Homo sapiens: one gene and its partners. The protein of the gene in region 2 purifies or fractionates together with the protein of the main gene of each other region. This does not show direct contact. Each region holds a gene or a part of one and is shown on either strand. Other genes may lie near its edges.

Region 1 (3,500 bases), on a different chromosome or scaffold from region 2:
TAACTGTTAGCTTTTACTATAGCCATTGAGGCCAGCCCTCAAACTGAGGAAACCAGCCTTTTCCAGTAATTGTTCTTCCCAGTTGCTTTGTGAGGCTGGAGCACTTCAAAATGAAGATTTGCATTCCCAACCAAATGAGACCTGTTTGTTCTGGAAATTGCCACAGTACATCCAGAATTTTCAGCTGGTTCCATGTCTCTTTTCTTTTTTATAGTGAAAGCAAATTCAGTATGATTGTGCTGCTCACCCTCCTACACGTATTATACTGTGAGATACTAAAACTGGCGTGTCCTCAGGTTCGCTTCTGCTTCCCTGACATAGAGCATCTCTGGCCACTTCTAAGAATGTTCCTAAGGTCCTTCGTGCCTAGCTCTTTTTTAAAGATAATTGTTCTTGTGCTACTGTTACCATATGTCCCCAGATCTCACAGTCAGCATCTTCTCTTTTGATTATTCAACAGAATTAAGGACCATTATCCCTGGAGGGTCACAAGGTGGATACCATGAAGGGGGAGAGATGAGGGCAGGGCATTAAATCTGAAGAGATAGATGCCAGTGGGGATGGAGAGGAAGGAGAGAGAGCCCAGGTATTCACCTGTTAATGCTTTGTCTTTGCACTTAAAATTGGAAAATTTACACCTCTGTCTCTACTTCAGTTTTAAAGGTGAATTTTCTCTACCCAATAATGTTTTTAGTTACTTTGCCAATATTGTAAGTAAGAGCTCTATGTGGCCTGAAGAAGTTAGGTACCATCCCATGGGATGATTTACGCATAACATATTTTCTTACCTATTCTTCCCTGTTTTTTTTTTGTTTGTTTGTTTCTTAAACTAGTGGGCCAGCAAGCAGAAATGTAGTAATGATCTATCCCAGAGTATCTGTTAAGTGACATTTTGATAGTGCCACCAGGCTGTTACAAACCAGTTTACCTCTAGATAATTCCAGGGTTTATCTTTTCAATTGGGACTCAAGCTGTGAAACCAAATTATGGCATGTAATACTTTTTATTGGCCGTGCATGCATTTTGCCATGAGTGAAAGCCAAATGTGGCCCGCAGTTGGTTTTATGAAAGGGTGAAGGAGATTCTCAAGAGAAATGCAAAGCAACTAATGCTTTTCAGCATTAATGTATCATATTCAGTTATTTCTCATTCGACTATGAGTCCAGTTTTGGGTCCTACCCTTTAAGATAAACAATAAACCAGAGTATTTTGAAAACATTTGGGGGAGAATGAAATTGGGATTGGAATGTAGGTGGACTGGAATAGTGCTGGAATGAATGGATATGATAGGGAATCTTTAATTAAAATATTTTTCATTTGGAAGGGACTCAAGCCTTGTGTGGCTCCATAAAATTATGATTTCTACTTAATATTAAGGGCAAGTGTTCTGGCTGAAATAACCAGAAATGAAATCAGCTTCCTTATAATGCAGGAGTTCCTGTGTCTTGGAGTATCCTCTAGTAGACTGACTGTTTCCCATAAGGAATGCTATCAAAAGGATCCCTTCTTTCAGGGATGCCTCTCTTCTTCTCACCCATATTGTTTATTTAAAATATTGAAAATATAGGGCTAGAGACAAAGCCTTATGCAACTTAGAGTCCTCACTCTAGGATGACAAAATTCATTAATCACTGTTCACTTGGAGCTGTTGATTGATCAGCAAGTCATCCACGTCAGTACATGGAGCCCATGTTTGAGTCCTGATTGCCTCTCAGTTCCCAAGAGTGGATTTAAGAACCAGCCTTGTACATAATTGTCATAAGTAATTTGCTTTGAAAAAAAGCCATATGGACTGCAAGTTCTACATTTTTCTCTTTTTTCCAGTTGAAAATAAGTTTGAAGGATTCACTTTCAGAAAAGTATAACAATATTGCATTTTATACATAGTGTATAATAAGTTAATTCAAAAATCGTAGATGTATCCTAGTAATTATCAGGGTTGGTATGTAATAGCTGACATACTTACTTGACAAGTACAATTCCAGTTTATCCCAAAGCATTTCTGGTAGGGATGAAGGTAGAAGAGAAGAGATGTATCATCTCTCCTTTTACCTAGACAGGAATGGGGAACCAGTTCTATAGGCATTAAGTGACTTATTTCACACAGGTTTTTTTTTTTTTTTTTTCCTTAAGTTATAGGACCTAAATTCTGGCCCAGAACCAGGGATTTCTTAAAACATAACCAAGAGCTATCCAGGAATTTTATTTTGGAAAGTTTCCAAATTCCTAATGTTGAAGTAGTGGTGCCCCTACCATAGTCATTTTTACACTGAAGACTAATCCTTTACATAGTCTTTCCAGGTCTTCACTAGAGAAACCGATAAAGTTTTGACAAGGTGCAAGAAAGAATAATATTCTTTCTAGAAGCACAGTTGGCTCTTGTCTCTAGTGAGGGGAGGATGCCAGAAGAGCAGGGGAGTTGGTTTTATAATAGATATAATTGCAAGACCAGTTGGTAAAGTTCATCAATACCGTCTTCACTCCCATCACCTCCATCAGTGTCCAGGATCTCACTTCCTTCAGGCACATCGTCCTGTATTTATTTCTCCCAGATTATTGTTCACTAACCCTGCTCCAAGGAAGAAAGAACTGTTTCTTAGTTGAAAGAACACATGATTTTGCAGTTGAATCACATTGAGTACAAATGCTAGCTCTACCATTTATAACCTGTATCATTATTTCTTAGAGTCTCAGTTTCCACAACTGAAAATGGATTTGATACAACAGCCCCACTAGCTTATTAGTAAGATTCCTTTGACTATACCATACTAGTGGTTCTCAACTAGGTGGAGGTAGATTTTGTCCCCCAGGGACATGGGGCAGTGTGTGGAGACATTTCTCATTGTTTTCAAGGGGCTGCTACTGGCATCTAGTGGGTAGAGCCCAGGGATGCTGCTAGCCAGACATCCTGTAATATGCAGGGAACCGCCTAAAACAAGACTTTCTTCAGTCCAAAATGTTAGTAATGTCAAAGTTGAGAAACGCTGTTTGAAGCCAATGTGTAACTCCTAGTGGGTAAGTCTAGGATGATATGGATATTAATGAACAACAGCCTTAGGCATGTCTCTGCCCAAGTATACTTGCTTTTTTAAGAAAGGGGATTTGGTGGTAGAGTGGACTCTCTTAAGACTGGAACATCTTTAAAAGAAATGAAATATCAGAGTAACAGATTGTAAGGTTAATATATCTGCCCCAAGAACTGCCCCCTCAGGCCCATTCCAGTAAGAAGAGCCCATCCTTTACACCTGGGGGATATACCCTAGGGCAGGAGTCTCCAGTCTCAGTCAGGTACTGTTCAGTCAGTGGCCTATCAGGAACCAGGACTGCACAGCAGAAGGCGAGCAGGGAGTGAGATAGTATTACCACCTGAGCTCTGCCTCCTGTCAGATCAGAGGCAGCATTAGATTTTCATAGGAGCATGAACCCAAATGTGAACTGTGCATGCAAGGGATCTAGATTGTGTGCTCCTTAGGAGAGTCTAATGCCTGATGTTCTGAGGT
Region 2 (3,500 bases):
TTTTTTTTGAGATGGAGTTTCGCTCTTGTTGCCTAGGCTGGAGTGCAATGGTGCGATCTCGGCTCACCGCAACCTCTGCCTCCCGGGTTCAAGTGATTCTCCTGCCTCAGCCTCCCAAGTAGCTGGGGTTACAGGCATGCACCACCATGCCTGGCTAATTTTGTATTTTTAGAAGAAACAAGGTTTCTCCATGTTAGTCAGGCTGGTCTTGAACTCCAGACCTCAGGTGATCTGTCTGCCTTGGCTTCCCAAAGTGCTGGGATTACAGGCATGAGCTACCGCGCCCAGCCCAGATGCTTACAGTTTTAATACACTTTTGACTAAAGCCAAACCTCATAACAGAAACTTTCTGTTGCACCTTTTATCTATGTTATCTAAATAAAAACAAATATGCTGAATAATGAAGTAACACTGGCATCCTTTTAATTCTAACAAGAATGTTGAATTACATACATATAGTTACCTAATAAAGCTCTTAAAAGCAGCAGACTGAGGGTTGATGCAGAGAGGCACTCTGTTTCCTTTCTGCTGTTCCAAAATGAACTGATGAATAATTTCTGTGGAGAAAACAAACATCATACAATCCATGACAATTTGCAAGCCCGGGAGCAGTGAATTCTCAGCGAACTCTAGCCAGCATCTGAAAAGCACTGCCTACTGGTTTAGTTAAATCAAACACACACATCATCTATCAAGCAGAATTCAGCTGAACTTCCTAAAACTAAAATGACAGCTGTTGCTAAATATAAGAAACCTACTGGTGGCATTACACAGACTGCAACCCCATCAGTGGGAAGAGTAAAATGGCCTATAAATTTGAGAGAGACTCCACAGGTTTGGCATTATGGGTGAACTCTTCTAAGTTGCTGGCAATTATTGCCTTTTTGAAGATCACTTAAAGACCTCAGTTGGTATCTAGGTGTATAGTTTCAGGTGGTTACTTTGGGGACTACTCTCTCTCTTGTAAAATGTCCTACAGTAGACACTAAAATCACTCAGAATTTTGGATGTCATTACTCCCACTGTATTCCAATAGGAGATCCTGCCACAAAATTTTATGAGTACACTATCAGAAATTCCCTTCTCTTGTCATCGTCCAAGGAATAATTCCCTCAGTGAATGTTTATCCTTTATGGAACTTTGTATGTTATATAAAGTTCAATACGTTTGAATCAATGAAATGACACTGAGTGAATACATATTAAACATATTTTGAGTCATACTCACTAAATAAACTTTGAAAATAAGAACAAAATATTCATTCCTCTCCCCGACCTTCCCCTGGATATAATATTAAATATGCTTTGTTATGCCCCGGACACACAGCTATACGCAAGGTTGTAAAATAAACATAGAGGGGAGCTTTGGTTACCATCCAGATCTCAGCTCTTCATGGCCACCTAATGGAAAATGTTACTAGGCATATTGCCTGGCCAAAGGCCAAAACAGATACTCACCTTTAACCTGTCGGACAGAACTGAGGTTCTTCTCGAAAGTGTCATCAAATTTGGGATTGGTGACAGGCTCAAAGTCACTGGTATAAACTCTTCCAGTGGAGGTGGAAAAGCAACATTTACACATACATGTGTGATATCGTAGTCGCCCTTCATCTAGGTAGGGGTGGGCTAAGGCATCCTTAGCGGATATTCTTTTGGACTGAAATCAAATTAGAGACCAGCACATCAACACTACAGATAAAATGACTGTCCACATAGGATCTTTCAAAAGACACATTAACTGCTTGACATAGCATATATATAATTTATAGTACATCCCGTCCAAAGAGGGATAATTGAATTTAGAGGTGGGTAACATAGCAGCAGAGGGAGTGTATGATTTAGGACAACTACTGTTATTATCTACCATCACAAAGTACTTAGAAGTGCCTTTCTTCTAAAATTCTAAGAAGTTACTACATTGAAATAGATGTATGCTGGGTCAAAAATCACAAATATCATGACATTTAACTATGTAGTGCTTTGAAGGGGTTACGTTTACCTTTTAAATAACAGGCTATATTTTCTAAATATGTGTCAGCATCCTGAAGATGCGTTCACAGTGGCAATTTTCAAAGTTGCTTGAAATTTTTATTCTCTTAGAATACCAAACAGATGATGGCAAAAGCTGCTGGAGTTAGGCAGCAGACAGTGGTCTGACTGCCATATTTTGAGATATAGCTCAGTCTGAATATCAGAAGTCTAGTCTAGCTTTTTGTTTTCTGGCACTTTATTTTTAAATTTTTTGTAGAGATGGGGTCTCACTGTGTTCTTGAATTTGTGGCCTCCAGTCTTGGCCTCCTGAAGTGCTGGGACTGCAGGCATGAGCTACTGCACCTAGTCATTTTCTGTCACTTTAGATCAGAATACTGAATGCATGAGTTTTAAGTTTGCCTGAAAATCTAAACTTTTAACATTACTCCATGAAAAAATTAAAGAAATTGTCCCTTCTTTTAGCTCAGTAGACATACGTGTATTACTGAAAGTAAATTTTAAAGATTTAAGGATGAACTCACTAGTACACAGTAGAACAAAAACAAGAACACACACTTTGCCCTGATTCCAATATGACCAAGCACTTCTTCACATTACACAATTTAAAAATGAAAACCACTTTTGTTCTCAGATAAACCAAAAACAACTGTTCTCGTTCCCAAATAATAATGAAATGTTTCTCATAAGCCCGGATTCCCTAAAAACACTTTTATCACTGATTTTTGCTATGCTGATGTAAAAAGGCATGTCATGACCTTTCAAGATAAGATAATCACAGAAGAAAGCGGGTGTTTATCTACCAGGAACAGGCAAACGTATACTTGATAACCTTGTTTTTTTTTCCTTTCAATAAGTTTATGTTTTGTATTTGGTGATCTAGCTCTTTTGAAGTCTGACTTCCCTGCATTCTTAGCAAGTAAACTTTTTCCTTTTCTTTTTTTCTAAAAAAGTCTGAGTCCTTTGATAGCGATTCCTAGAGATTCCACTGGGATAGTGTTCCACTGTTTGAACCCAAAGGAACAAGTAGGCTGACAGTGTATGTGCCTGATCCCAGGCCTCTCTGAGCCCTTGGCTTCCCTTTCCTTCTATTTTTCTTTAACTTCTGTTCATGAGTTTCAGGACAGAACTTCAACGGTTTATCCTTCTGTTCCTTTAGGTTACATACAGTGATCATTCCAACAACATACTTGTCTGTAAGATGCTTCACACTTACACCACTGTGCAGTTTCTCCAATAGCTTGGCATTCTGTGCTATAAACAGAAATGCTTCCTCTTTTTAAAAAAATCAGTTACCTGCTGGGTTATCTGCAGGACTTTTTGACATTTTCAACAATATTTTTACTCCAAAGAGCACAGAATAGGCAAAAAATACAGTAAATAATGCCTATAGGTCTTGGCAGCATGTGGGACATTGTGGGGAACCTGTCATTGGTGCATCTGGCCTGCAGATGTGCCATTTTATTACCCTTTGTGGGCACATTTGCATGGGGGAATCTGGATATGCTTGGG
Region 3 (3,500 bases), on a different chromosome or scaffold from region 2:
GCTGGGGGCCATTCCTCACACAGCCACGCCAGGTTGTCTGGGCATTGCTGACCTGTCACGTATGGCTCCAGAGCCTTGGGGACCAGACTTCTGGCCATTTTAAGGTCTTCGGCAGAGCAGCTCCCCGACTCCAGCCCGCAAGCCATGCCCATCCGCTTCAGCACTTCTATGTCATCGTGGATTTCAAATGTGTTGTCAAAATTAAACAGATACTCAAATCTGAAGGGGAAAGGCACAGTCAGAAAGACAGGGTCTCCCAGCGGAGACGGTACACACTGGGGTGGAGCCAGGACGGCTGACCCGCTGACCGCCACACACAGCTTCCCGGTTCCCAGTCATCAGTGTCTCCTCACAGAATTTATAAACTCTGAAGTAAATGAGATGAGAGGCAAATCGAGGCCTATTCTCCCCAGGAGGACATGCCCTAAGGCACACGCTCCCGGAACAGAGACCTTCCATCTGCCACATGGCGGCAGCCTCCCACCACCCCCCAATGGACAGCAATTTGTGCAACATTTGCTATTTGTACAACATTTAAAACTTGTCCTAGTGACAATACCAACAGGGTCGGCTCCCTAAAAAAGAGATGGGTGACCAGGGAACAGCTCCCCGCCCACAACCTACTTGTCATTGGAGATGCTGCAGTCGATGACCGTCTTCTTGCTGGTGTTGACGATGATGAAGGGCAGGTGGATGACTGAGTTGGGTGGCGGTGGCCGGCTGGCCTGCTGCTCCGCATGCCGGTTTCTCTGCACCAGGTTCTTGAAGGCAATTTGCTAAAAAAAATAAGAGGAGCCAGGTGGCCCGTGGCGGCACAAGAACGCAGCCCCTGTGCTCGAGGGGTCCTCACAGCCCTCCCTGCGTCCACGTGACAGCGAGGAGTTGGCCTGGACATCTGAAATGCCAGCGCCGGCCGCTGGGTGCTGACCTCTGCAGCCCAGGGAGAAAAGCGCTCAGGAAACGGGATCCTGAGGGGAGAACTAAGGGAAAGCGGGCGCACAGCCATCCGTGCCCTGATAAAAGTGTCCTCCACGGCAACGGCGCTCAACAAAACACCAATTTTGGAAGTCGATTCCTTGCTGTCCTTCACCCCTCTAAGACCACCTACCACCATGGCACCTACAGGGTGATGGCCTTGGAGGGGGTGCCGTGCCGTGGACTTTGCCCACCCTGGAAAGTGGAACGCAGAAGGGCCCATGTGCTGCAGGGGTGCTCCTCTGGGGGAATAGGCCCTGCAAGGCTGAATCCAGGGCCAGGGCCTCAGGGCCCCAAACCAAGTGTTCCACTTGGAGAGACCTTCTTTGCTATTAATGTAGAGCCAGGAGATTCCCTTCCTCTCCCGGCCACCCTGGGTCTATCCCCACCTGGCAGGTCCTAAGGCACTGGCAACCAGGACTGTCCCTCCTGACACTCTGTGGGTCCTGAGGAGCTCCTGCCCACGAGCCTCCATCACCACGGCTGCCACACCGTCCCCTCTGGGAGGGCTCGAGCACACCTTGGTCAGGGCAGCAGCCAGCTCTGCAGTGAGCACCTTGCACACAACCCCCTCCACACCAGACACGGGGCCCCCAGTGGTGCCGCCCACCCTCAGCACTCAATGGGAGGTGGGGAAGGCCAGCTCCAGGGCCCTGATCAGCACTGTCAAGACCCAGGTGCACTGTGTCCACCACAGTTTTACAGGCCTTGCCTGGCACCTGGGCCTTGGGTTAAGCACCTCTGAGGAGATTTTTCAAATGTTGCTTTTGCATGAAGTCATCCCTCCATCTGTCTTTTGCCTATTTAGATGCTGTGACGAGAGATACACACATACACATGTATGCACACATGCACACACACACACGCACACAGGCACATGCACGCACACACATGCACACGCACACAGGCACACGCACGCACGCACACAGGCACATGCACACACACACACATGCATGCATGCACGCACACACACATGCATGCACACGCACGTGCACAACCTCGCTCTGGGAATAAGGCCCACGTTCAACACCTATGAGATGAACTCACACTCAGAATCTTAGAGCAGTCATTTGATTTGCCATGCAGGAGTGTAACCCAAGGCAGTATGTTGCCGTTATAAAGCTAAATTAGTAAAATAAAAATTACCCTGCCTCCACAGATACGTATTCTCTTACCTGTAGAATAAGTTCTTGAAGTTGAGACTGTTTCTGTTTTATTCTTTCAAGTCTCCTCTGTCTTTCCACCTTCAAAAACAAACCACCCATGTGAAGAATCATCACAACTGTTCCACAGAGCGTTTTTTAAAACCCACATCCTCACATCCTCACAGTGTTACCTATGTTTACCCAGAATGTAATCGAAGGGATATGGACAAATCTAGACATAGCAGGTGCTACAAGATATAGGTGAGTTTTTTTTCCATTTCTAAACTATACCTTCTCCCCTTTCCTCTCATTTCTTGGATTTAACTATGGTATCTAAAAAGAAAACAAAAATCCCACAAACTAGGATTCAGAATTAACCTACACTAGAGTTTAACAGACTCTAGTGGGTCTGGGCCAACCATGCTCCCTCCCCTGACAGCCAAGACTGAGAAACGCAGGGAGACGTCTGCATGACCGTCTGCCAGCCGGACACAGAGAGCATAAGGGCACGGAGCCCAGACCCTTCTGAGTGACCGACGACTAAAACATCTACACGGACTTGAAGGGAAATCAAGGTTGAAGGAAGGCTGAAGGGGCACCTCTAAGTTCTGACATTCCTGAGCCGAGTTGGTGGGCAGACCAATCCACTTGATCTCCTTCTTCTCCTTGGAGATGATGTTCATGGCCATTAGCACGTTTAAGGCATCGTAGACGCGCCGTCTTATGTTTTTCTGGTCATAAGCCTGGGGATGACAGGGAGTGGAGTTTCCAAATGATCCAAAAAGGCCGGTGGATCCTTAAACTGTAGACCATGGGCACTGGCTCAAAGGGGCACCCCGCTCACGGAGCCGCCACCCCAACATGCCCTCAGGGAGCGCTCCCACCCCACAGATGACGCAGGGCAAGACGGGGCTGTGCGAAGCCTGAGTGTGTTCCAGAAGGAGAGCCGGGGGCTCTCGGGTGTCGAGCCCAGCTGGTGAGGTGGGCATTTGTGCATTTCTGGGCCGCTAGACGTGCAGAGCCAGCCCACGTGCTCACTCACTGGAGTTGACAAAGCATCGTGCCAGCAAATGGATCGGAAAAATTCTTTTATGCTGTACTTGGCATTTTCTGTATGGTTTTAACTGTTCCCGATATTAAAAGAGCGAAACGTACCACACCGCTGGGCTCCGCCACCCCAGCCTCTCGGCCCCGGCACACACTTACTGACTCGTTTGGTAAAAATTCTTTTATGCTGTACTTGGCATTTTCTGTATGGTTTTAACTGTTCCCGATATTAAAAGAGCGAAACGTACCACACCGCTGGGCTCCGCCACCCCAGCCTCTCGGCCCCCGGCACACACTTACTGACTCGTTTGGTAAGATGTGGTTGTCGGCAGC
Region 4 (3,500 bases), on a different chromosome or scaffold from region 2:
TGTTATAAATAATGAGGGCATTCCTTCAAAAGCACAAGTTTTCTTAAAAACGGGACTTTAAAAATAGAATAAACAGTGATGGGATAGAGTAAAATAGTTTATTATAATTGAGGTTTAGATGACAGTGAGTTTCTTACAGTAATTTACCACATCATACATCCAAAGAATGTAATTCAAATGCATTATAAATACAAAGGAGAAACATCTCTTAGTGTTGGTTTATAAGCTACAGAAAATAGTATTTCATATTTTTCAATCCTTGAATGTGTAACTACTTACTGACTACTTGTAAATTATTTTCTAAAACTTCCCTAAGTTTGCAGAACTGAGGAGCAAATTTTGCAATAATCTTCTAAAAAGGTATACTTCCAATATTAATTTAAAGACAGCTTAACATATTCCGTATTTTTTAATTTATAATTTAAATATAATTACTAATATAAAAATTCAGCAGCCAAACACAGGTAAAACATATCATTTTAAAAGATCTCAAAGGTATATCAAAAAATAATCGATAAAGAATTATGAATCATACAACAAAGAGATGAATATGTATTGAAAAATTTAGTAATATGGGCCTTGATTAAAATTAATATATATATGACCTGTCTTAACTTGGCATCAAAAAGCAAAGCAAAAACAAATACAAAACTTTCTTTTAGGAACTTTTATATGTTCAGAGCTACTTAAGAGTATTGAGAGAAAATGGGCTGATGTATTTTATTTCCACATCTTGCAAAGCTAAAGATGATGTGCAGATAATGACATCACAAAGTAGGCACAAGTAGAATTTGGTTTTTAATTTGTTTTGTCTATCATGCTCTCATTTCAGAACCAAAATTACAATTAAATTAACCCTCAAATAGGTGTTGGGATGCATTAAGTAATTAAAATGGGCATTACAAAGACTAAAGTCATTTCAAAAAATATGCAATATGCTAAAATTCCATGTAGTGCCTGTAATGTAAAAACATTCTAAGCAAGTGAGACTATAGCTATCCTGCATGTACATGTACGCACTTATTTAATATGAAGCCACAAATTCATATATTCCACTTCTGCATAGCTCAGAGAGCAAAAGCTAACACTAGATTAGTAATGCTTGATCCCTTTGTACATGAAGTGTATCATGTAATAGAGAAATTAGATTCCACAAACTAATTTCTGCCATATATTTTTACACTATTTATAAACATATCTGATCTTCCATATGATATGTAGAGAAATTGAAATAGCAATTCACATTGTATTGTAGAATCTAATCAGGAAGCACATGTTATATTATTAATGTTTATTGATTTGTAAGCTTTATACATTCTGTCCAAATTCTACAAGTAAAAACAGCTCTGAAATCCTTTTGATCTTTCTTTTTCTACAGCTAAGGTATTTTTAGTGTTTAAATAGCAGTTGATGTCTTATCTATTGTCTTATACGGTACTGGATTCATTCCTGGTTACTATAATACTCAATTTAACAACTAGTAATATTAATGCTTTTTCCAAGCTTGGGACATATATAGCAGATAATATAAACATGTTTACTATGATTTATGATACTATACTACTCACTATCATGAATACAAAGTAATTAACAGATAAAGCTATTATGAACGCAAACAAGAGAACCATGCTCCCCTCAAAAAAGAAAAAAAGAAATGGAACATAAACTGTAAATACTTGTATATTTCCTTCTAACACTATCTAGTATATTAGACAAATAGCTAACAATAAATCATTTGTTTATTCATGTTAAATAAATTTAATATGTACATTAACTTCTGACTTAACTTAAAAGTATATGGAATGTTTTCCAGAGACTATTTTGACTGTGTCAATTACCCTAGATACCAAAGTTGTTGTATTGTGTTGCTTGATGAAATAGGACATAGATCAACCCTCAAAACCAGTATTACAAGCCTGGCAAATAGCATCACATTTGGGTGACGCACAGAATCCATCACCCTAGGGAAAAATGCATTGGGTCATAGTACAGAGTCTTTACATGTTCCATATTATTTCTACATAACGTTTTGAGATGATAGAATTGTAAACTATAAAGTGGTAGCCCATAAAGTGATATACTCACAAACAGTCCTGTCCCTTAACTGCTCCTCTTAACAGAAATGAGACTTAAAAAATGATCTCAGAAGCATTTCTTACAATACACTGAAAGGTGGCATTTTGATTTATAATTTTTTTCATTTAAAAAAATTCCTTAGTAAATTCAGAGCAGATATAAGTATTATGATAACAATTGATTCATTATGTTTAAACTCCATACTCATTTCAAACTTTTAGACTTCATAATGTAGGTCATGTTAACTCCTTAAAAGATTCACATTTCAAGCACAGAGTTAATAGTTAGCATTCTAAATTCCACCATCAAGATGTGTCTAAGTATTATCGGTCTACATACATTCCACATATAAAACACACCTATAATAGCATGCACATATATTGGCAATAATTCAAACATAGCAAAGCTATCGTGAGTACTTCAAACATTTGCAGGCAATTACATTGCTAGAACTCCTCTCATATTATAGGTATCCTATGACAAGCTACTAAAAAATTACACAAATCAAAAAGTGTTACCTTTGTTCAAATAATACTGCTGTTCATTATACAACAGAAAACATCATCCTTAATCTCTCAGGAACCAAGATAGTGGTGGATTCTTGGAGCAGAAGTAGTGCAGAATGGTTTGCGGCAAAATCGAAACATATTGTTTAAGTAAACCTTAAGGGGAGGGGAGCATATGCGCAATTGATGGATTTTTTTTTTTTTTTTTGGTATCATCTTCCACAAAACCTCCCACCAACCCCTCCCCACCACTTACCAGTAAACAATCTGCGATATTAAGGGACTGCAACTCTAAACACCTCCCTTTGCCTTATTTCCTTCTTGCTAAACTTTATTGCTTTTCCTCATTTTTGAAGCAACAAACAAAATTCATTAAATAAAAATTTATTAACAGATGCAGCCATAACATGAAATGTATGTTTGAAAACTTTGTAATAAATAAAATGAATCTAGACTTACTCCAAGAAACTTGCACTATGCTGATGTGAACAACATATACATTAAGTTCCTAAAGTTTTTCCAAACAAATCTTTAACTAAAGAAGCCATAAGCAAAAAAGGAATGCCTACGATTTGAACTAGAGTCTGTAACTCTCGCAAGAAAAACTGAGAAACATATCAAGTAAATCAAAACTGTCAAATTTATAAGCAGAGAACACTTCAATGCCCCAAATTTGCGGAATGCTTTTTATAGTCATAAATGCCTTAAAGACTGTACTCTTCCTTGTGTGACACTTAATTTTCACTATATATATTATTCCTTAAATGTGCTCTAGGTAAAGAAGGAAAAAAAAAATCTATCAGGAAGAATTTGGGTTAAAAGCAAAGTCCACGACAAGTAACCGTAAGATTTAAACCTCAGGAACAATTCACAAAAGAAAAGTCGAAACAGTACTTAGTTCTGAGCCACCGAATGGGG
Region 5 (3,500 bases), on a different chromosome or scaffold from region 2:
GCTGCTATCTCAAAACCTGGCAAGTTTCAGGAAACTGTAACCTTTCTCCCTCCTCTGTATGCACATCTGTTGCTGGCACAAGATGGGTCAGGAGAAAGAATTACTATTATCTTCCCAAAGGCGACTTCAGTTTTCTGAAATGATCTCACCCACCCAAATACATCCAATATCCCTGGGAGCTGACTTTGCTTCCCATTGGTTTCACTAGTAGCTAGTTTATTCGTAACATAAACCTATATTCTCCAGCTTATTTTCCTTTTTGATACTGTATAACATCAGCCTTATAGCACTAGACAGAAGATGCTGGAAGGTAAGATAAAATGTGATTTGCGAAAAAACATTCAGACTTTTAAAAAAACATAAATAGCCCCACCTGATTCCCCCCATAAAATCTGGAGACAATTATTCTAGAGTAAACCCAAAACAAATCAAAAGCATATCTTGATTGGCCAGATAGTAAATATTCAAATAAGGTCAACAGTGTAAAATTTAATCCAGGATAACACTTTTGAAGAAAAAACCCACCAATTTAAATTCAATTGTTTTTAAAAGTTTTCCATTATTATTTCCCATTGTCTCAAAGAAATTGACAAACCTCCTGCATTTAGCTGGAGTGACTCTGTAGTATCAGAAAGCTGTTGTATCTGAGGCCAGGTTTCATGGCTCACGCCTGTAATCCTAACATTTTGGAAGGCCGAGGCAGGAGGATTGCCTGAGCTCAGGAGTTCAAGACCACCCTGGGCAACATAGTGAAACACTGTCTCCACTAAAATACAAAAAATTAGCCAGGCATGGTGGTGCATGCCTGTAGTCCCAGCTACTCGGGAAGCTGAGGCATGAGAATTGCTTGAACCCAGGAGGCAGAGTTTGCAGTGAGCCGAGATGTACTCCGGCCTGGGAGACAGAGAGAGACACCGTCTCAAAAAAAAAAAATTAGCTGGGTATGGTGGTGAATGCCTGTAATCCCAGCTACTCTGGAGGCTGAGGCACAGGATCACTTGAACCTGGGAGGTGGAGGCTGCAGAGAGCAGGTTCACGCCACTGCACTCCAGCCTGGGCAACAAGAGCAAGACTCTGACTCAAGAAAAAAAACAAGTTGTTATCTGTAAGGATGAATTTTGATATCTATTCCAACCAAAGAGCCCCAGTATAAGACCCAATAAATGAAAATGATTTCAAAATAATACACTGGGCCAGGTGCGGTGGCTCATGCCCATAATCCCAGCACTTTGGGAGGACGAGGCGGGCAGCTAGCTTGAGTCCAGGAGTTTGAAATCAGCCTGAGCAACATGGAGAAACCCTGGCTCTACTAAAAATGGGAAAATCAGCTGGACATGGTGGCCCATGCCTGTGGTCCCAGCTACTCAGGAGGCTGAAGTAGGAGGATCACCTAAGCCCAGGACGAGGAGGTTGCAGCATGTCAGTGTACTCCAGCCAGGGCCACAGAGTAAGACCCTGGCTCAAAATAATAATAATAATAATAATACACTGCTCATTAAAAAAACAAAATTTCTCTAGTAAGCACTGCAGGAACATTCTGAAGATCAATAAGGCAGTCAGAGGATTACAATTTGGTACAAACATAAGACAAGCATAAAAACAGAATTCTCATGAAGTGGGAAGGAGAAGTGAAAGCGACTTGTCTAAATTCCAGGGCAAGAGATCCTCCAAGATATCCCCTATCATCTCCAGGGATGGTCAGCAGGCTACAAAGCTTGTTTCTCTGCTACCTCAACAGAAGGAAGTTCAGGCAATGAAACAGTAGTGTGCAATGCGAAGCTGATATTGAGGGGAATGTCCTGAATTCAGAATCAAATATGTAAAATAAATAAAATAAAATAAAATAAAAAGAAAAAAAAACAGAATCAAGTATAGTGTGTGACTTTGTTCAACAGCAATATCCAAGGCTATCAAATCGCACCTCTAATTCAGCCTAACCCCACAGCCTGAAAACAGTCACTAGCCTGGAATAAATAATTTATTCCAGGCCAATTAGCAGAGACTGATTTCACTGTTTTCTCCTATGAGCATTATCCTCATAAAAAGGATGTAGTACACATAAATTTTAAGTATTTATAACCTGTGGTGAACAATCTCCAAGAAAGTTCCCAACTTTACTTCAAGAAAAAGGTGCTCTGCTTTAAGGTATGTTGCCATTTGCTACTTTTAGAACATTACTAGCCTCCCAATTGAGGACCCATGTCCTAGAACACTCTATAAGCACTCTACCGTGTCTGGGTTTCCTTCCAGAAGAACATTGATAGCTCTGTTGACATCTCCATTGCAGTCATGCAAAGCAATCACACATTCATCCTGGTTCTTGCCTGTAATATCAATCAACTGAAAGAGAAAAAACAGCAACCATCATGAACAGGCTTATGCTCACACTCCCAATGAAAGGAAACTAGGTGAAGGGAAACGCTATCAGTTGAGTTTGAAAAAAACAAGTTTAAAAAGCAAAAGATGAGGGCTGGGCACAGTGGCTCACGCCTATAATCCCAGCACTTTGCAAGGCTGAGGTGGGCGGATCACCTGAGGTCAGGAGTTTGAGACCAACCTGACCAAAATGATTAAACCTGTCTCTACTAAAAATACAAAAATTAGCTGGGTGTGGTGGCGGGCGCCTGTAATCCTAGCTACTTGGGAGGCTGGGGCAGAAGAATTGCTTGAACCCAGGAGGCGGAGGTTGCAGTGAGCTGAGATTGCGCCACTGCACTCTAGCCTGGACCACAGAGCAAGACTCCGTCTCAAAATAAAAAAAAAAACAAAAAAGAAAGAAAGAAAAATGATGTAGAATTTGCCTAGCAGGTTTTCCAGAACCACCCCCCCAACCCCCGCCAAAAAGGAAAACATGTAGAATTTTGGTATTCTATTTCCAAAAGCCAAATATTAACATCTGTGGTTCAGGGATGAGGTCAAAAGTATTTACAAAGCAATTAAGCATCAAATACAGAATCAAACTCTGAAACACACAGGCTTCAGCATGAATTTCCACATTTCCTATACCCACAACTGCTCAGTTTCTACAAAATGGCATCAGCAACAGGCAAGAGGTTAAAATTAAGATAAAATTTCCAAACAAAGTATCTATCCAAAGGGCTACAATAGGCTGGGTGCAGTGGCTCACACCTGTAATCCCAGCACTTTGGGAGGCTGAGGCAGGCAGATCACTTGAGGTCAGGAGTTCGAGACCAGCCTGGCCAACATGGTGAAACCCCATCTTTACTAAAAATACAAAAAATTAGCCAGGCATGGTGGTGAGCGCCTGTAATCCCAACTACTCGGGAGGCTGAAGCACGAGAATCGCTTGAACTCGGGAGGCAGAAGCTGCAATGAGCCAAGATCATGCCACTGCACTCCAGCCTGGGTGACAGAGTGAGACTTCATCTGAAAAAAAAACAAAAAACAAAACAAAGGGCTACAAAAAATTAGAGAATGAAAGCACTTATTTATTGGCCTGACCTATTATATTTCAGGTCAAAATTCTTTCAATACCTATA
Region 6 (3,500 bases), on a different chromosome or scaffold from region 2:
CTTCCAGGCCAACACCCCCGCCCGCTCCCACAAACACCAAACAGAATGTAAAAATCAATAGACAATAAAACCATATTACTCTTGAGCATCTGATGTGCTGCCCGGCAGGACTGCAAAACATTAGTGAAGCTACAGCCCTCAGACAAAGCAAGGGCCACCCACGACACCTCCCAGGAGTCCAGCCACAGCCACAGTGTCCATTCCTGCGATGATTCGTTCTTAAAGGGCCCCCACCCCCACTGCAGCTGAAGCGGGGAAACGGCGCCTGGGATGACATTTTCAGCTGAAGAAGCTGAGATGTCCTGGTGCCACCCAACCCCCAGCAGAGCTCCTGGTAGGGAACACTGAGCTGTTCCTGCCACACACTGCTGGTCTTGAGGCCAGACTGAACGCTGCACCCGCATCCACTCACCACCGTGCCAAACACCACCGCAGCGTGGCCGTCGGCCTCCATGTGCTCCTCGCTGAGGGCCTCCACCACATCAGAATCTGACCTCAGAAAGAACTGCGTGAGCTTCTGGCCAATCAGGTCCTGGCTGCTGTACCCCAGGAGCCCGCAAGCTTTGTCGTTAGCAACCAGGATCTGAGGAATCACAAAGAGGAGCAAGGATGCAGACATCCCCAGCAGCTCCACCAGCTGCCCAGAACAGCCCAGGACGACCATGCAGAAGCCAGCCTTTTCCTGACAGACAGGGTCTCACTCTGTTGCCCAGGCTGGAGTGCAGTGGCGCAATCAGAGCTCACTGCAGCGGCGCAATCAGAGCTCACTGCAACCTTGAACTCCTGGGTTCAAGTGATCCTCCTGCCTCAGCCTCCCTGGTAGCTGGGACTACAGGTGTGTGCCACCGCACCTGGCTAATTTCTTTGTAGAGATGGGATCTTGCTATGTTGCCCAGGCTGGTCTTGAACTCCTGGGCTCAAGCAAACTTCCCACCTCCCGAAGTGCCCAAATGTTTTTCTAATTGCATTAAAACACACAAATCCCAGGTTTAAGGCACAAACCACAAATCCACATCTACACAGCTGGATCTAAAAGAGAAGCAAATACCTCTGTGGTCTTGGCATCCACCGTGAAGATGGCCTTGTTAGGGTTGCACACAGGGGCCGGAAGCAGAGGTGAGGACCACCCTGAGGACAGTCCCCGCAGCAGGGAGCAGCAGGACACACTGCCCCGCGGTTCGGACGGGTCCGTGTGCTCAGGGGCAGCAGGGCAGTGCAGTTTACTTGTACAAATATTCTGGGCAGCCAGTGATGATAGACAATAGGAGCTCCATCTGTCTTCTGAAAAGAGAAGCGAAGCGAAGCTTTAGACTTCACACAGCTGCCAGAGTCCACCTTCTGAAACAGGCAAAGCACACAGCCCTTGCCCTCAACTCCTGCAAAAAGATCTAAGGATTAAGTCAGTCTGCACAGCTAACACACACTCTCACTGCGTGTCTGAACATGGTCCCCAGAATCCACTTAGGCAACCACCAGGTCCACTCGGAAGCACAAACAGCATAAGATCAACACTTCTGTGTCTAAATTACACTCAAAGCCAGGCGTGCCTATAATCCCAGTTCTTTGGAAGGCTGAGGCAGGAAGGTTGCTTGAGTTCAGGAGTTCAAGACCAGCCTGGACAACACAGCGAGACCCTGTCCCTACTAAAAATAAAATTTGTAAAAATCAGTTGGGCATAGTGGCGTGCCCTTGCAGCCCCATCTACTCAGGAGGCTAAGGCAGGAGGATTGCCTGAGCCCAGGAGTTTGAGACTGCAGCGAGCTATGACTGCGCCACTGCACTCCAGCCTGAGCAACAGTCAGACCTTGTCCCAAAAAACAAAAAAGCTTAATTACACTCAAAGGTTCCTTCCTTCCCACCTTCTGTCCTCTGTCAGTCATTCCAAGACCCCATGGCCACTCCGGTGGCTGCCCCGTCACCTCCTCCTTGGAAGCGTTCCTACGATTCAAGAGCTCCTTGTGCAGCGTTCTCTCAGCAACGCCTCCAATGGCTCCCAAAACCCTCAGCCCCGTCATTCCTCAGGCCTCACCCTCCTCCCACACCACCCTCCTCGGGCACCTGGGCTCCCCCACCTCCCACCTCTCAGTGACCCTGGCTCCATCTCACCCATTCCTCGGTAGCTTTAAATACATCTAATTAGAAATGCACTGAAGACTCTCACACTCGCACCTCCAGCCTGGACCTCCCACGGCCCACTCGCCTGCTTCCCCATCTCTGGAGACACCAGATACATTCTTCCAGTGCTCAAAACCAAGCACTCAAGACCTGACCCTTCCATTTCTCTCCCATCCCCTCCCCTCCATGTCCTCCAGCCAGGACCCCTGACTTTCTCAGTGAGTGGCCTGACCCCGACCATTCTCTGAGGCTGGAAACCACGTGGCCATCCAGCCACTCTCGCCCCTGCTCTTCCCCAGACAGCAGTCACCAAGCGCAGCTCCTTCTCATGTCTCAAGGCCCTGTACCTCCGGCTCCCACCCCTGCTCCTCATGCAGCCACCAGAATGATGCTCCAAAAAAGGAACACACCTGTCAACACTCACTGAGAACATTCCTGATCAGCGCCTGGGTGAAGCCCACTCCCAAGGGCGCTGTGTGCCTCCCAGCCCACCCCTCCCTGCAGTATCCTGGGCACTCTCCACAGGGCCCTCCGCTCTACACCCTCAGACACTCCAGTGCACAAGCTCAGCTCCAACACCCTCCTACTCCAGTGTCGAAGTGCTCCTTGACCTGGAGACCAGACTCCCAGCCACCATTTCCCGCAGCTCTATGCCCCACTTCCCCATTTTCCAGGTCTACCCCAACTTCAAGCACACAGCCTGCTGTCTCCCCAAGTGCCTCCATCAGACAGCCCCTGAAAGGCAAGTGACGCTTCCTTCCTCACCATGGCCCAGTCCTTTGGGGTGCCTGGACAAAGGAGGCACCAACGGAATCTGGACATAGGAGGCACCAACAGACTTCTGCCCCATGATTCTTGGTCCACCAGCTAAACCGCGTTTAGCTCAGTAAACTGCACGAGCAAAGCTGCAATTCCCTAAGTAAAATAGCCTAACCTAGAACAGCGTTCTCACATACTCTAAAGTAAGAAATAACATTTTGTTGTAACTTGACCCTGAAATGTGAAGGTGAGTTCCACCTGCTGCCTGAAAAGAAGCGCCAGCTGCCTGGGAATCACAGCAGAGTAAAAGCAGCAGGAAGGGTCCTGCCGGAGTCATCTGCCAGCATGAGCCGAGCACTTAAACCACGAACTTTTCTCTGCAGGAATAGAGTGACTTCAATCCCTGGTGAGAGGGTTTCCATGAGAACACAGAGCAACTCCACATTTGTATTTCCACGCGCTAAGGCCTGCAGTGGTCGAAGGTCATTACCAGAGAGCGCTGTCCTGCTCTGGCAGAGTCTGGAAAGCCCATTCCTTCTGCTCAGGTGTCTGTGGGCTGAGGAAAACGACCTGCTGGGCTCAGCAGTGGTCTGTGCAGCTGGGCCCTCTGCTGACACTGGCAAGGG
Region 7 (3,500 bases), on a different chromosome or scaffold from region 2:
CAGATTAAAGTTGATTGGGGTTGTTATGTTTTGTGTAGTTTTTGGAGGCATTTCCCTTTCTTAGAGTATCATGTGATTTATGGTGATAATTAGGCAGAAACTTGTCTTCCCTACAGATGCCAAGATTATAGAGGGACTTGCTCTCACCAGAGACCAGATGACAGCATCCGTAGATATTTTTAGAATGGACCTCATCATTTATTTGGTCTCCCCATTTCATTTTCTTTGTATCAGCAATTGATTTCAAACTTGTTTATTGGGCAGGGAGGGGAGAGAGGGCGTCTTCCCTTATTAATGAAAGTCACTGATGGGACAGAACAGCATCTTTGTATTTATTGTTAATTGGCATATTGCCTAGTACTTGCAGAGTAAACTACAATTCCATCAGCTGTAGCTTCATTTTCTTTTCAAAAGTTTTGCTTAATCTGATGTGTTTTCTTACAGCATTTTAAAATTTTATTTATTTATTTTGAGACCGGGTTATGAGACTAGTTTTTGTATTTTTGGTAGGGACGGGGTTTTGCCATGTTGCCCAGGGTGGTCTCCAACTCCTGGTCTCAAGGGACCGCCCCCCTCAGCCTCCCAAAGTGCTGAGACTACAGGCATGAGCCGCCATGCCTGGCCCCTTAATCCGATGTGTTTTTAAACTAGAAGAGCATCGACACATACACATAAATCTCACGGTTAACTAAATAACCGTATAACTAAAATGTCATACTTTAAACTATTTAAGAATGACATGAGCTTTCTTAAAACCCATGAAACTTGTACCCAAGCTAAGTATCATTGACTTTCCCAGCTCAGTAGCTGGGTTTCATCACTTAATATGCTCCCTCTACTCTTTCTGTCCTTGATTGAATCAGATAAGCATGTACAAACATTGAGCCACAGGAGAGCCATTAAAAATCTAAGACAGATGAGCTGCTGCTTTCCTTTTGATTATTTTTATTACCCCAGTTTTCATTGTAAATGGTGATTCTGGTGTTCCTCTGAGAAGGTTAATTGTATTTCTGTTCAACATTTATCTTCTATATTTTCAGTGTTTTACAATCTGTTTTCCTTCTGTCACAGAGGAAACCAAAGGCCTTTCTGTTCTCTGGAGTGGGAGTTTCTGTATTAAATTTGTCCTCTGCAAGAGTTGCCTCTATACCTGGGCCAAATCCTCTACCAATTCAGCCTATAAGCACCAAGGTGGTTTCCTGAGCAGGCCTCCCTGGGAGGGCATTGCCTGGGGGACCTCAGCGGAAGCTGTAGAACATAGCTTCACAGGTGACCCCAACCCCAATCTGCAGAAAGGGAAAGTGGTGATTCACACATCTCGTTTTTAATAATGGAGTTCTCTGAAGATTGGGGCCTTTTGATGAAGGAATGGATATTAAGCCTGGGGACTGTGGTTGGTTAGTGCTTTAGACTGTCCCACATGGGCCTCCTACTCCTGGCTTTGGGGTGATGGCCTGTTCTGCTCAAAATTGTGCTCTGTTAGGGGCTCATGGGTGTCCTCTGTCCTCTTTCCTGCTGTGTTGGCCCAGCCCACATTGGAGCAAGCCACACTCCCTGTCTCTGTACTTGGGGAATGAAGTGTGTCACCTTCCCATTATGCACTGGCTTCTGTGGCTGCATAATTAATACCCAAGGGAACTGGAGAGAGATCTGAATTAGGTAGTACTTTACAGCTTCTCCCTCGGCGCTTACAGTAAGTCAGGATGGGGACTTGGGGATGGGAGTCCCCTGATGACTGATCACATAGTGATGTTGGATGGTGGTTTATTAAGTGTTATTGTGAGGGGAAAAAACCAAATCCTCTTCCAGAGGACTGTGCCTGTGAAACGCTATCTAATCATTCATACTTTGCAGGGCAAGGTAGAGTAGTTAGAATAGCACTGACTTTAGCAAGCTACGGTCTTCACAGATGCTGAGATCTAGTATTTACTTCAGCTTTTACTCCCTCTAGAATCAACAAGCCATTATTTTATAGTCCAAGGTAATATTATCTAGTAGCTTTACAAAGCAAAGAATGCCCCAAAAAACCATCAGCCAGGGAAACTAAAACCTAGGGATAGACAGGAAGAAGAAAGAGGCTTCTTTTTATACTTTATTGTCCCTACCTCCAGTAAAACAACCTAAATTCTTCAATTTGGAGCTTTAACAAGGATAAGTAAATATGACCATGGGCATGTAACATTGTAAATACTAAGTCCTGCTGTGTTTGCAAACATTGAGAGTGAAAGGTAAGATTGCCAGCAAGTGCAGAGTCACAGAAGAGATTGAAGTTACAGTACACTCATGAGAATTCCTGATGACCCTACGGTACAACCTCTAAAGGTGGGAGAAGCAGATGTATATAATGTGATTTTGTGTGTGAGTTTTTTGATGCTTTTTTCATTACTTATTTACCTTGTCTGGAGAGAAAAGCACGAGTTCATGTTGTTTCACTACCACTTTTCTATCCATTTCTTGGCCTAGAGCCGTTTCTTTACTACCATAACTGCCAACACTATCTCCATAAACAAAGAATCTTATGTCTGGAGGTCTGTCATGTCACGTCCTTTTGCTATTAAGACAGCTCTATGAATATACTTTTTTTTTTTTTTTTAATCCCTTAACTTTTCTGGGCCCAGTGGTCACATGACATCTGATAAGACTTGTATAAATTCAGATGCTCTAAGAGCACCTTTTTTGTGCCTTTCCATTGAAGACAAAATAATAATTGGAGGCAGAATAATAATAATGTTGTTGATTGTTAATGGGGTGTTTTATGGGGGATTTCTTGTCCATATATGTGTTATGTAATTTTTTTTCTCCAAATTTGTAATACAAAAATCAAATTCCTAAGCCAGGTGCATTGGCGTGCCTGTAGTCCTAGCTACTCAGGAGGCTGAGACGGAAGGATCTCTTGAGCCCAGGAGTTCAAGTCCAGCCTGGGCAACATAGCAAGACCCCATTTCTTAAATTCTTTTTTTTTTTTTTTTTTTTTTGAGACGGAGTCTCGCTGTCGCTCAGGCTGGAGTGCAGTGGTGCGATCTTGGCTCACTGCAAGCTCTGCCTCTCAGGTTCACGCCATTCTCCTGCCTCAGCCTCCCGAGTAGCTGGGACTACAGGTGCCCGCCACCGCGCCCGGCTAATTTTTTGTATTTTTAGTAGAGACGGGGTTTCACCATGTTAGCCAGGATGGTCTCGATCTCCTGACCTCGTGATCTGCCCTCCTCAGCCTTCGAAAGTGCTGGGATTACAGGCGTGAGCCACTGCGCCCGGCCCATTTCTTAAATTCTTAAGATGGCCCGCTTAGTAATTACTTACTCTTTTTATGGTGGGGAATAGGGGAGTCAAGATTACCCACACCCAGCACTGCAGACTTATTAAGGCCTTTATAGAAAGTGGCCATTTCATCTCCACTGGTGTTGGGGTATTCGTGGAAAAGGGTGGTAAGCAATTCAGTTAGTCCACATAGCCAGTAGGGAAGAACCAGAAAAGTATAACTCATCTACTTAGGATGAGCGGCT

Evidence for each region.
Region 1: the proteins of NLK (region 2) and OBI1 purify together in Homo sapiens (affinity purification with mass spectrometry; one large-scale study listed by BioGRID and IntAct). This does not show direct contact.
Region 3: the proteins of NLK (region 2) and TFDP1 purify together in Homo sapiens (co-immunoprecipitation; one study listed by IntAct). This does not show direct contact.
Region 4: the proteins of NLK (region 2) and TRPS1 purify together in Homo sapiens (affinity purification with mass spectrometry; 2 studies listed by BioGRID and IntAct, with this or other methods). This does not show direct contact.
Region 5: the proteins of NLK (region 2) and UBAP2L purify together in Homo sapiens (affinity purification with mass spectrometry; one large-scale study listed by BioGRID and IntAct). This does not show direct contact.
Region 6: the proteins of NLK (region 2) and PASK purify together in Homo sapiens (affinity purification with mass spectrometry; one large-scale study listed by BioGRID and IntAct). This does not show direct contact.
Region 7: the proteins of NLK (region 2) and FOXO3 purify together in Homo sapiens (affinity purification with western blotting, with the first as the bait; one study listed by BioGRID). This does not show direct contact.

The regions. Positions count from the first base shown.
Region 1 is NC_000013.11:78,652,656-78,656,155, reverse strand, and holds part of OBI1 (ORC ubiquitin ligase 1), read left to right. Parts: intron 1-3,500. UniProt on the Homo sapiens protein: E3 ubiquitin ligase essential for DNA replication origin activation during S phase.
Region 2 is NC_000017.11:28,189,177-28,192,676, reverse strand, and holds part of NLK (serine/threonine-protein kinase NLK), read right to left. Parts: intron 1,657-3,500; coding exon 1,458-1,656; intron 558-1,457; coding exon 464-557; intron 1-463. UniProt on the Homo sapiens protein: Serine/threonine-protein kinase that regulates a number of transcription factors with key roles in cell fate determination. Positive effector of the non-canonical Wnt signaling pathway, acting downstream of WNT5A, MAP3K7/TAK1 and HIPK2.
Region 3 is NC_000013.11:113,633,253-113,636,752, reverse strand, and holds part of TFDP1 (transcription factor Dp-1), read right to left. Parts: coding exon 3,468-3,500; intron 2,864-3,467; coding exon 2,720-2,863; intron 2,220-2,719; coding exon 2,151-2,219; intron 777-2,150; coding exon 625-776; intron 220-624; coding exon 53-219; intron 1-52. UniProt on the Homo sapiens protein: Can stimulate E2F-dependent transcription.
Region 4 is NC_000008.11:115,658,976-115,662,475, forward strand, and holds part of TRPS1 (zinc finger transcription factor Trps1), read right to left. Parts: intron 1-3,500. UniProt on the Homo sapiens protein: Transcriptional repressor. Binds specifically to GATA sequences and represses expression of GATA-regulated genes at selected sites and stages in vertebrate development. Regulates chondrocyte proliferation and differentiation.
Region 5 is NC_000001.11:154,227,455-154,230,954, reverse strand, and holds part of UBAP2L (ubiquitin-associated protein 2-like), read right to left. Parts: intron 2,341-3,500; coding exon 2,230-2,340; intron 1-2,229. UniProt on the Homo sapiens protein: Recruits the ubiquitination machinery to RNA polymerase II for polyubiquitination, removal and degradation, when the transcription-coupled nucleotide excision repair (TC-NER) machinery fails to resolve DNA damage.
Region 6 is NC_000002.12:241,139,473-241,142,972, forward strand, and holds part of PASK (PAS domain-containing serine/threonine-protein kinase), read right to left. Parts: coding exon 3,365-3,500; intron 1,282-3,364; coding exon 1,049-1,281; intron 584-1,048; coding exon 413-583; intron 1-412. UniProt on the Homo sapiens protein: Serine/threonine-protein kinase involved in energy homeostasis and protein translation. Phosphorylates EEF1A1, GYS1, PDX1 and RPS6.
Region 7 is NC_000006.12:108,675,917-108,679,416, forward strand, and holds part of FOXO3 (forkhead box protein O3), read left to right. Parts: intron 1-3,500. UniProt on the Homo sapiens protein: Transcriptional activator that recognizes and binds to the DNA sequence 5'-[AG]TAAA[TC]A-3' and regulates different processes, such as apoptosis and autophagy.